Homo sapiens: one gene and its partner. The protein of the gene in region 2 purifies or fractionates together with the protein of the main gene of each other region. This does not show direct contact. Each region holds a gene or a part of one and is shown on either strand. Other genes may lie near its edges.

Region 1 (5,258 bases), on a different chromosome or scaffold from region 2:
AACCTGGGCAGGGAGCTTGGCCAAGGCATGGACGGGTGGGCCACTCAGCGGGGTGAATGCAGGTGGGTGTATGAGACCCAACACCCACCCACCCGCCCACATGCCACAATGTCTCAGCTGAAAGCCCAAATTGCATCTTCACACAAACCCTGTGGGTCCCCATTTCCAGGTCAACTCACCTTCCTTCTAAACCCTTCCTGGCTTCTCCAACACCTGTCCTCTCTGCCCTCCCTGAGGGCTCCTCCTCAGTCTTCTGGGTACCTCCCCACCCCACAATTTACTGACCACAGGACCCTCTCCTAATATTCCTCAGTCTTTCTACAGACGCTAGCCGAGCGTCCTTCCCGCTTCCCAGGCTCAAAGCCAGCTGATGTCCAAGCTGGTGCACGCGGCACACGGAGTGGAGGAGCAGATGCTGCAGACTTGGAGGTGGGGGAAACTACCTACTGGGTACAGTGTGCACCATTCGGGTGATGGCTACACTCTGACTGCACTTGTACCCCTTAAATCTACAAAAAAAAAAACAAAAAAAAAAAAACAAAAAACAAAAAAACAGAAAAAAGCTTACAATAGAAATGACAATCGAAACCAGGAGCCGGTGCCTGGACTGATGTTCTGCTGGGCTCCAGAGGCCGGCAGCAGGTCACCCCCTGTGCAAAGCCGCCCAGCCACATCTGCAGCATTGTGGGCTCCACCTGGGTCTGGCAGCCCTGCCCCACCAGTGGCTGAATTCACTCACACACGGCCTCTCTCCTCTGTGGGAGCCAGAATTGCCCAGGGGCCCATTTCCCTCTGAATCTTGGGGCCCCTTGAGTCTACACCATGCTGGGCATGGAACACGTTCTCCATTTTGTGGGAAAAACATCCAGCTGAACCCCACGGGAAGATGATAGCAGACACTCCCAGCCCACACGGGGCCTCTCAGCATGGGAGTGCCGTCAGTCCTCATCAGTGCACGCTTGCCAAGCGGAGAGAGCTGACTCCAGGCCCCCTGACCTGCCGCCAGGCCACAGGCCAGGGCGTCCACTGGTTCTGGTTTGGGGGTGCACCAAGGAAAGCCCAGGCCCAGGGGGCCGGCTCAGGGAGTGGAGCCCACACATGGGAAAAGACTCTCCTGGAAGCAGAGGAGGAGGAGACTGCCCCCCATAATGGAGATGCATGGGGTGTGCCAGCGGGGTGAAGACAGAGTGAAGGGCGAGGACTTCCTGCTGGGGACACCATGGCAGGAATCCTATGGGAGGCCCAAGGTGGTCCCAGCGAGCACATGCCCACTCTGCTGTGCCCACAGGGAGCAGCAGTGTCAGTCAGGACGAGATGGAGTGACCTTATGTAATCACTTAAGAAACATCAACTGTTTACATCTACAGAGGAAAATTGATTTTCCCTTTCTCGGCACGTGGGTTTTGGGGGTGGGACATCTGTCCTGCTGCTGACTCAGCATTTCACAGGCAACAGCCAGGCACATCCAGCCATGCCATTCACCTCTCAGCCCAGACAACCTCTCTGCCCCTGCTTCTTGCACTTTCTGGTTCTCCCTCCCCCAGTGTGGCCAGGCCATGCCCGTGTGGCCACCATGGCTGCTCCCCGCCCAGCTCACCTGCAGCAGCCCCAGAGCAGGCAGCTGGCAGCGGCCCTCGAGCTCGGCGATGAGCTCAGCTAGGTGGGCGCTCTGCTGGCCTAGGTGGGCTGCGCCCTCCCGCAGCCGGGGCAGCACCTCCAGCTCCTCCTCCTCCAGCCTCTGCAGCAGCTGCTGCTCCTCCTCTGCCAGCAAACGGCGAAGACGCTCGAACTCACCCAGCACGTTCTGCCGCTGGCTCTCCACCATCTTCTGTGGAGCCCAGGGAGAAGGACAGCTGAGGCCAGACCCCAGGCCCAGCCAGACCCCAAGTTTGGTCAGACCCCAAGCCCACCCAGAGGCCTGGCTGCACCCAACCCCACCCCCGGGGCCTGCTAAAGCCAAAGCACAGCACCAGGTGTGGCAGGACCCCAAACCCACCACCTGGTGCTGGCCAGACCCCAAACCCACCTGTGGCACCTCCCAAACCCCAAATCCACCACTCAGGGAGAGCCAAATCCCATTCTACCACACAGGACTGGCTAGACCCCAAATCTAAACCCAGGGCCGACTAGATCCCAAATCCACTATCTAGTCCCTCCCCAACTTCCAAATCCACCCATTGGCTTGGTAGAACCCTGCATCTACCACCTGGGGCCAGCTGGACTACAAATCTACCACCCAGGGTCCCTCCTGACCTCCAAATTCTCCCCTGGGGCTTCCCAGATCCCAAATCCACCACCCAGAGCCTCCCAGACCCCAAATCTACCCCAGAACTGGACAGATCCCAAATCTACTCCTCAGGATGGCTGAATCCCACATCTATGACCTAGTCCCTCAAAACCTCCAAATTTACCTCCAGGGCCCAGACCCTAAATACACCTGAGAGTTGCCACCCAAGCATGCTGGGACCCCAGGATGGGGCCCTTGCAGTATGGGAGCCCACGCCCACGACCTGGCAGGACAGGTGCACGTGGGAAAGGACCAGCCCTTCAGTGGGCTCGGTGGGGCCAGGCTGAAGCAGTGACTGGTCCTGGGGCGCCAAGGGCAAGTGTGCCTGGCCAGCATCGCCCCCTGGGGTCTCCTATACAGGACCTTCACCCCCTACCCTGCCACCCAGGACCCTGGGAGCCCCAGCACCTGCCTGCCACAAGACGCAGGTCTCATCCGCCTGGGCTTGGAACAGCAACGCATCCTGCATCTGCTTCCGGAGATGCTCCAGTGACTTCTCCAGCTTCGCCTGCGGGAGAGGCCAGGCAGGACCATGAGACATGAGTCCTGTCACAGAAGCCTGCCCTTTTGCACCTGACACCCTGTCCCCTCCTCAAAGACAATGGGGACAAACTGAAATCTGCCTGGTGAATCAGGGAACTCAATGCCCTCCAATAAGCGTGAGCCCTCATGGTAGGTGGGCAGCCTCTTGCCAGAGGCTGACAGCCCCAGCCACATTCTTTCCTTTTTCTCATATGGGGCATTTCTAGTCCTCGACCTTGCTACCCTAGCCCAGGCCTCACCCCCCTTTGCAAAGCTACCTCAAGGGTTCTGGCTGCCCACCCCATCTGTCCCCAAGCTGGCTCTGAAGGTGCTGAGCTCTCCTGTTCCCAAGCCAGTGTCTACTCCTCCTCCTCTTCCTTCTCACCTGCTGGCTCACATAAGGGCCTTGGACCAAGCCTATGCTGGGGTCCAAAAATTCTGCCCTATGCCCCCACAAATTCATAGGTTGAAATCCCAACACCCAGTGTGATGATGTTAGGAGGCGGGGGCTTTGGGAGGTGACTAGGTCAGGAGGGCAGTGCCGCCACAATGGGATTAGTGTTATAAAGGAACCCTCGCCCCTTTCACCATATGACAACACAGTGAGAGGGTGTTGTCTGTGAACCAGGAAGCACCCTCACCAGACACCAAACCTGCCAGGGCTTGATCTTAGACTTCCAGCCTCCAGAGCTGTGAGTCTCCAGCTTGTATACATCTGCCATGTGCAAACCATGGTGTTTTGGTAGGACAGTCAGCACGGACAGACATGCCTGGCTACCCACCCTATCTTTTCTCCAAGCCACTCGGGACCTTGTGCATTTTCAGCTTCATCAGCTATCACTGTAATAAGCTCCAGGATGGGTACACCTCCATTCTGCTTTCTTGGTCCTTAATTCTCATTCCCACGGTTCCTCATGCTGTGCATACCAGGAAGCAGTGAAAATCCTGTACACAAGCTCACTGTACTGTGTGTGCTTGGGGTGCCCTGAACCCACTTCTCGAAGGGTCTGCTCACTTCCACCCCATCTGACACCCTTATCAGCAACGGGCCCTGTGCTGGCCACACCTCTTTGCTTCTCAGCCACCCCAAGTCTTGGCTCTCATCTCTCGCTATCCACGCTCTGGAAGGATGGAGGTGCTGGGAGGGTCCAGAAGTCTGCCCCGGTAGCAGAGCCAGGACTTCAGCCCAGCTGCCTGGCTCCAGGTGCTCACTTTAGTTCACCACTTGGCCTCACGATTCGGGAAGACCGCTGGAGCACCAAGGACATGTCCAACTGCTTTACTGTCTCTGCCTAGGCTCAGCTCTCACGTGAGCTACAAGAACCCCAAATGGCGGTCCCTGTCCCCAGGCCTCTCTCCTCACTGCTGCCGACCTGTTCCAGAAAACTCAGGCCTGGCCCCTGTGACCCCAACCCCACCTCAAACACTTGGCCCAGTGCCTCTCACTTCTCCCTCAATGCCTCAGTCCCTACGGGACATTTTCAGTTTTCTTTTTTTGAGACGGAGTCTCGCTTTGTCCCCCAAGCTGGAGTGCAGTGGCACGATCTCGGCTCACTGCAACCTCTGCCTCCTGTGTTCAAGTGATTCTTCTGCCTCAGCCCCCTGAGTAGCTGGGATTACAGGTGCCCATCACCACACCCAGCTAATTTTTGTATTTTTTGTACAGATGGGATTTCACCATGTTGGCCAGGGTGGTCTCAAACTCCTGACCTCAGGTGATCCGCCCACCTCGGCCTCCCAAATTGCTGGGATTACAGGCGTGAGCCACCACACCTGGCCAACGTTTTCAGTTTTCAACACTAAGGTTACAAACAGCATTTGATCAGATGGAATGGGCTGTAAAGCAGCACAACATACCCAGCATGGCAAAGATCTTGCATTTCAGGTACCTGCATCTTTGTGTCTCTGGCCAGATCAGAACAGAAACCTCTTACCCTGCGTGTAGTCAGAACTGGGATGCTGGGGCTTGGTGCAGGCCTGGGATCTTCCCTGGCCTCCTCCTTCCTGTGGCAAACCCCCTCCCCACACAAGTGCCATCTGACACACAACCCAGAGAGATCTGGGGGCCATCTTCTCTCTCCCATGGTGCTGCTTCCTGGAACTGGAGCTTACTGGGACTTCCCTGTTTACCACCTCGGGGCAACCCAGCCTGGGGCTTGTTCAGCTGTCATGACCCCAGGTCAGGGCCAGGCAAGGAGTGAACCTGTCATGGAGCTAATGGGCCCCAGCTCTGGCAAGTGGACACACAGCCCCATAGGTGGGACTGAGCTTTCTAGGCCCATGGGGGCAGGTAAAAGCAGTTTGCTGTGGTTAACATAACCTAGGCTCTAAGGCAGTGAAGAACAGGATGTCATCCCCAAATATACCGCTGTGGTACAAGAATTATTCTGAGTAAAAGCAGATGCAGGAAGAGCTCTCTGTACTCCTATCTGCCTAAAAGTAGGGTATT
Region 2 (5,258 bases):
AGGGTTTCACCATGTTTCCCAGGCTGGTGTCAAACTCCTGAGCTCATGCCCTCTGCCCACCTCAGTGTCCCAAAGTGCTAGGATTACAGCTGTGAGCCACTGCACCTGGCCTCACATGTACATTATTAAAAAGCAAAAACATTGAAGATTTTACATCAAAATGTTAACTATAATTATTTCAAGGTTATAGGATCATGAAAAGTATTTATCTTCTCCTTGCTTATCTGTATCATTGGCAATAAAATGCATTCTATATGTACTAAGGAAAAATAATTATTTTAAAAAATTTAAGCTCTAGATATCAAGAAAGTTGATAACACATTTTACTATGAGGTTGAATTCAAAGTGTTTGCCTAAAGAGATTATTTCTTCCCTCCTTTTTTCTAAATTGGCATATACTAATCTTTTCTTTCATTCAAGAACTTTTTCTGGTTGTATAATAATTAGAAAGAATGGATGGACTATCTGTATTAGTCCATTCTTATGCTGCTATGAAGAAATACCTGAGACTCGGTAATTTATAAAGGAAAGAGGTTTAATTGACTCACAGTTCTCTGCATGGCCAGGGAGGCCTCAAGAAACTTACAGTCATGGTGGAACGGGAAGCAAACATGTCCTTCTTCACATGGCAGCATGAGAGAGAAGTGCAGAGCAAAGCAAGGTAAAGCCTCTTATAAAACCATCAGATCTTGTGAGAACTCACTCACTATCATGAGAACAACATGAGGAACAGCCCCCATGGTCTAATCACCTCCCACAAGTTTCCTCCCCCAACACGTGGGGATTACAATTTGGATTACAGTTCAACGTAAGATTTGGGTGGCCAGACTCTATCCCTATCCAAGCATATCCTCTCAAAACTCTGCCTTCCTATTTTTTAATCTCTGTTTTCTTCCCCTTTTCAATCTATATTATTAGAAACAAATGCTCCATCACCCTCAACCCCAATTCTCCTCAGCTTTGATCTGGAAGTGTCTTTGGGAATGAGATTTTCCTCAAGGCTCAGGCAAATCTGGGCTGAGCACTCCTAAAATCATTATTCACCCAAACAGGCTTCCTCTGGCCTCTCTGGGGTTGGATTATACACATTCTCAGCTCCAGGAATGGAAAGGTGGACAAGCACAAAGCAACCTTATCCAAAAATAAGAAATTATGTAGCATCCTTTTCCTTATATTATAGTATATTCCCTCAGGACAGCTATATACTGGACGCTCAGGTCAAATAAGCCTAGGCTCAAATTCTGACCCCAGAGTCAAACTGCTGGGGTTGGAACCCTGACTGTACTATTTCTGGGTGACCTTGAGCCAGGTTTGAAGTTCCCTGAACCTGTGTTTTCTCATCAGAGAAAGGGAACTAGTTAATAATAACAGCACTTCCTAGAGCTATTTGATTAAAAAATTAGATAATGAATGTAAAGCCTTTAACACCGTCCCTTGCAGACAGCAAGAGGACAGTACATGTTACCTCCATGTGCCACACAGCCAGTGGGGCTGGGGAAGCCCTGCATGGCCTGTTGGAAAAGCTGCAATTATCAGGTTGGTGCAAAAGTAGTTGCAGGTTTTGCCATTAAAGACTACTTTTTCACCAGCCTATAGAAAGAAGGGGTCCTCTTGGACTCTATTTTCTGCCTTGCTCTAAGGCTCACCTCAGTGGCTCCTACTGCCCAGAAAGTTCCAGGCATTGCCTAGAATATTTCATAGGCCAGGAGCATCCATCCATTGGCAAAAGGCCACCTCCACAATGATAGGAAACGTGAGCTCGTGGGGAGTGGACAGTGGTTTGGTGCTCAATGCCTGAAGTCCATTGAGATTGACAGAGGGATCGCTTGCTAACTTGCTCCCAATGCACAGAACACAAAGAGGATGCAATGCCCGGTGGAAATTACTACACCCCATGTCTAGGACCCTGTGACTACAGCTAATGCCAACTTGAAAGCAAAGTCACTTCAAGGCAATCAGGAGTCGCTGAGCCTTCATTGCTCAGCCCACTTACTGTGTTTTGGTGACTCGGTGTCTCTCTCCCCGTGCTGGCTTCTCAGCTCAGAATATCTGGGACTCCAGCGTTCCTCTCAAGGCAACTAATTTGTACATAACTTTGGAATGTTTGTGAGTGTTCACAAAATAAAACTGAATAGTACTCGAGTGCCTGGCTCAAACCTTGCTCCACAGTCCCTCCCTCAAGTCCCCATTACCTACGCAAAAGCTGCTCTAGTTGATTAATCAAGTTGAAAATCCAAGTGTGGAAAACTCTGGTAGCTGTGTTCCAGAGTAAAATCCAGCTCTAGCTGGAAAACTGTGAGTGTATTTGACCAAGAGAGTTCAAGTTCAGGCACTTCTCTTTGATAGACTGGCTATAACTGAGTCTAACCAAGAGGCAATACTAATTCACACGATTCCAGGGGAATTTCAAAGGTGATCTTGTCCATTTAATTGCAGTGAAATACCTGGCACATTACGTGGAAAATATTAGGTACTCAATAAGTATTTGGTGAAGGTTGAATATTCGTAAGTGGGTCCTTATCATATTATATGGTCAGCATTCACAACCACTAGTAAGAACAACTGCTTGACTATTTTTTGTCAGGATGGAAAAAGAGGTTGGGATTTGTGCCTTAACAAGGAACCAGAAAATAAGGTCTTTAATATCATTTGCTTCAGGCTTTTAATCGGTGGAAAGAACAAAGTTGTTACAAATGACTTGCACTCCCAGCGAATAAACAGCAACGTTCCTGCAACAACCATTTAATCTATTAGAATAGTAGAATCTTCAAACATGTTCAAGAAATGGATGAGATTATATATATTCTCATCAGTCCATAAAACTATTACAGATTTATCCAATAGTGTGCTGTAGTCTGAGCTATTCAAACAGAATAATCATAAACAAGTAGCCTAAAATGCATGGTTTTCATGTTTACAGCCGTTTGCTTAGTTTTTCAAATAATTAAAGGTTTTCTCCTTCAAACATAACTTTGTATAAAGTACAGCTTATCTCTGGATAAACTGTGACACTTTACAAAGAATTATATTCTTTAGGAGTGAATAATGTTAAATTAAGGTTCCTGGGAAATGTTTTGAGTTGGTTTCATCTTTTTTCCTTTCTCAGAGGTTTGTATTATTTTATCTTATTATTATTATTATTATTATTATTGAGACAGGGTCACTCTCAGTCACCCTGGAATGAATGCAGTGGTGCGATCATTGCCTACTGCAACCTCAATCTCCCAGGCTCAAGTGATCCTCCTGCCTCCATCTCCTGAGTAGCTGAGACTACAGGCATGCTCTACCACACTTAACTAATTTTATTTTATTTTATTTTATTTTATTTTATTTATTTATTTATTTTAGTACAGACGAGGTCTTGCTATACGTTGCTTGGGCTGTTCTCAAACTCCTGAGCTCAAGTGATCTTTCCACCTCAGCCTCCCAAAGTGCTGGGTCAAATTCCTGATTTCAAGTGATCCTCACACCTCAGACTCCCAAAGTGCTGGGATTATAGGCATGAGCCACTGTGCCTGGCCTATTTTCCTGTTTTAGACTAAGGTTCAGTCTCTATTAATATATGTACATTTGCCTATAAGTAGTTAAATGTTCTATTCCTCTCTGGCGTTACAGATCAGTGCATAAAACTCTGAAGAATGCAGTTTCCTTCACAATAGTCAGGAAAAAAAGAACTTCTACCCTGTCCAAATTTGAAAAAATCTATCCAGTCACAGATTTCTACTGCATAGTTAGAAAAAGATTATATAAAATTAACAAGTCTAAAGAAAATTAAATATGGATCAATTAAGAGGAGGAGAAAAAAGATATTTTTAGTTTTACATAGATTAAATGTATTAGCTTCCTATAATGATATTTACCTGTTAAAAGAATGTTGTTCTGCTGGGGATAATCATGTAATAGGAATTAGGGTAATTCAAATTCTGCTGAAAAGGGGATTTAAGAGATTCTTATGTCACAGGGAAACTCAAGAATATGCTTGAAATCCTGGCTATTTATGCTGTCATTAAAGTACTTATGCAGGTACCAGCCTAAATTTATGGATCAAAGTGATCAACGATTACAGATGAACCACTAAAATGATCTAACATCCATTTATTGAGAAGTTTCCACTTGCTGTACACTTAAATTGCAGCCTTAGATTTTATATTTGGATCAAAGTTCCATCACATTGCATCATTTTCAGAATATTTGAACTTTTATTTCAATACAAACTGAGGTAAATAAATATCCCCCCCAAATAGACGCTGATGTTCCATATCTAACAAGTAACCAAATTGTCATGATAATCTGGGATCACTATCTAGACTCCATTTATGAAAGAAAATCTTTTATAGATTTCACAATAGCCTGATTTTCATTTTGTAAATGTGTCTCATTGTTGAGAGTGTCTTTATTCACTCCCATTCAATGATGAAGTGACTCTACTGTTTGAGGCCCAATGCCACAAGTTAACTTCATAGAAATGAGTCACGTCCAATTTGGCCCCTAGAAGTGCTTGCCAGCAATACAGATGGGCTTATTACTAGCACATAAAATTACTTTCATTCTTTACCTCCTGTATTAGCTTCCAAGAAGGGCTCCATTGGTTTATAATATTTTTGTTTTCTTCTAAGTATATACGCTTACTTTCATTTGGCCCATACATCAACGCAATTGGTTAGTTTTTTTATTTTTTCAGAGACAGAGTCTTACTCTGCTGCCCAGGCTGTACACCAGTGGCACAATCATAGCTCACTGCAGCTTCAAACTCCTATGCTCAAGAGATCCTTCTGCCTCAGCCTCCTGAGTAGCTGGGATTACAGGCACACATCACCACACCTGGCCACATTTTTTTGTTTTTGTAGAGATGGGATCTTGCTTTATTGCCCAGTGGGTCTTCAACTCCTGGCATCAAGCGATCCTCCCAACTCCGCTTCCCAAAGTGCTAGGATTACAGGCATCAACCACCCCACCTGGCCTGGTTTGGTATTTTTATCTCAGCTTTTATAGATGAGACAACTCAAGCGTGGAGAAGTTAAATGCTTGCTTGTAGCGCAAAACTATCATATACTACAGGCAGGACACTCAAGTCTCCTAGCCTTTTGATCTGCGGTGTTCCCGCTAAAAAATTGAGCCTAATAGAAGGCCCCATCAATATGGGTCCAATGATACTCAAAATGGAAATTGAATATTTTAAAATTAGATTGGGTATTGTTATGAAAGAGCAGCATGAGGGATCTTTGTGGTGACGGAACAGTCACATATCTTGACTGTGG

What was found. Proteins that work in one complex are often made in the same cells at the same time.
Region 1: the proteins of IPCEF1 (region 2) and TRIM11 purify together in Homo sapiens (affinity purification with mass spectrometry; 2 studies listed by BioGRID and IntAct, with this or other methods). This does not show direct contact.

The regions. Positions count from the first base shown.
Region 1 is NC_000001.11:228,399,367-228,404,624, forward strand, and holds part of TRIM11 (E3 ubiquitin-protein ligase TRIM11), read right to left. Parts: intron 2,796-5,258; coding exon 2,700-2,795; intron 1,829-2,699; coding exon 1,598-1,828; intron 1-1,597.
Region 2 is NC_000006.12:154,346,059-154,351,316, forward strand, and holds part of IPCEF1 (interactor protein for cytohesin exchange factors 1), read right to left. Parts: intron 1-5,258. UniProt on the Homo sapiens protein: Enhances the promotion of guanine-nucleotide exchange by PSCD2 on ARF6 in a concentration-dependent manner.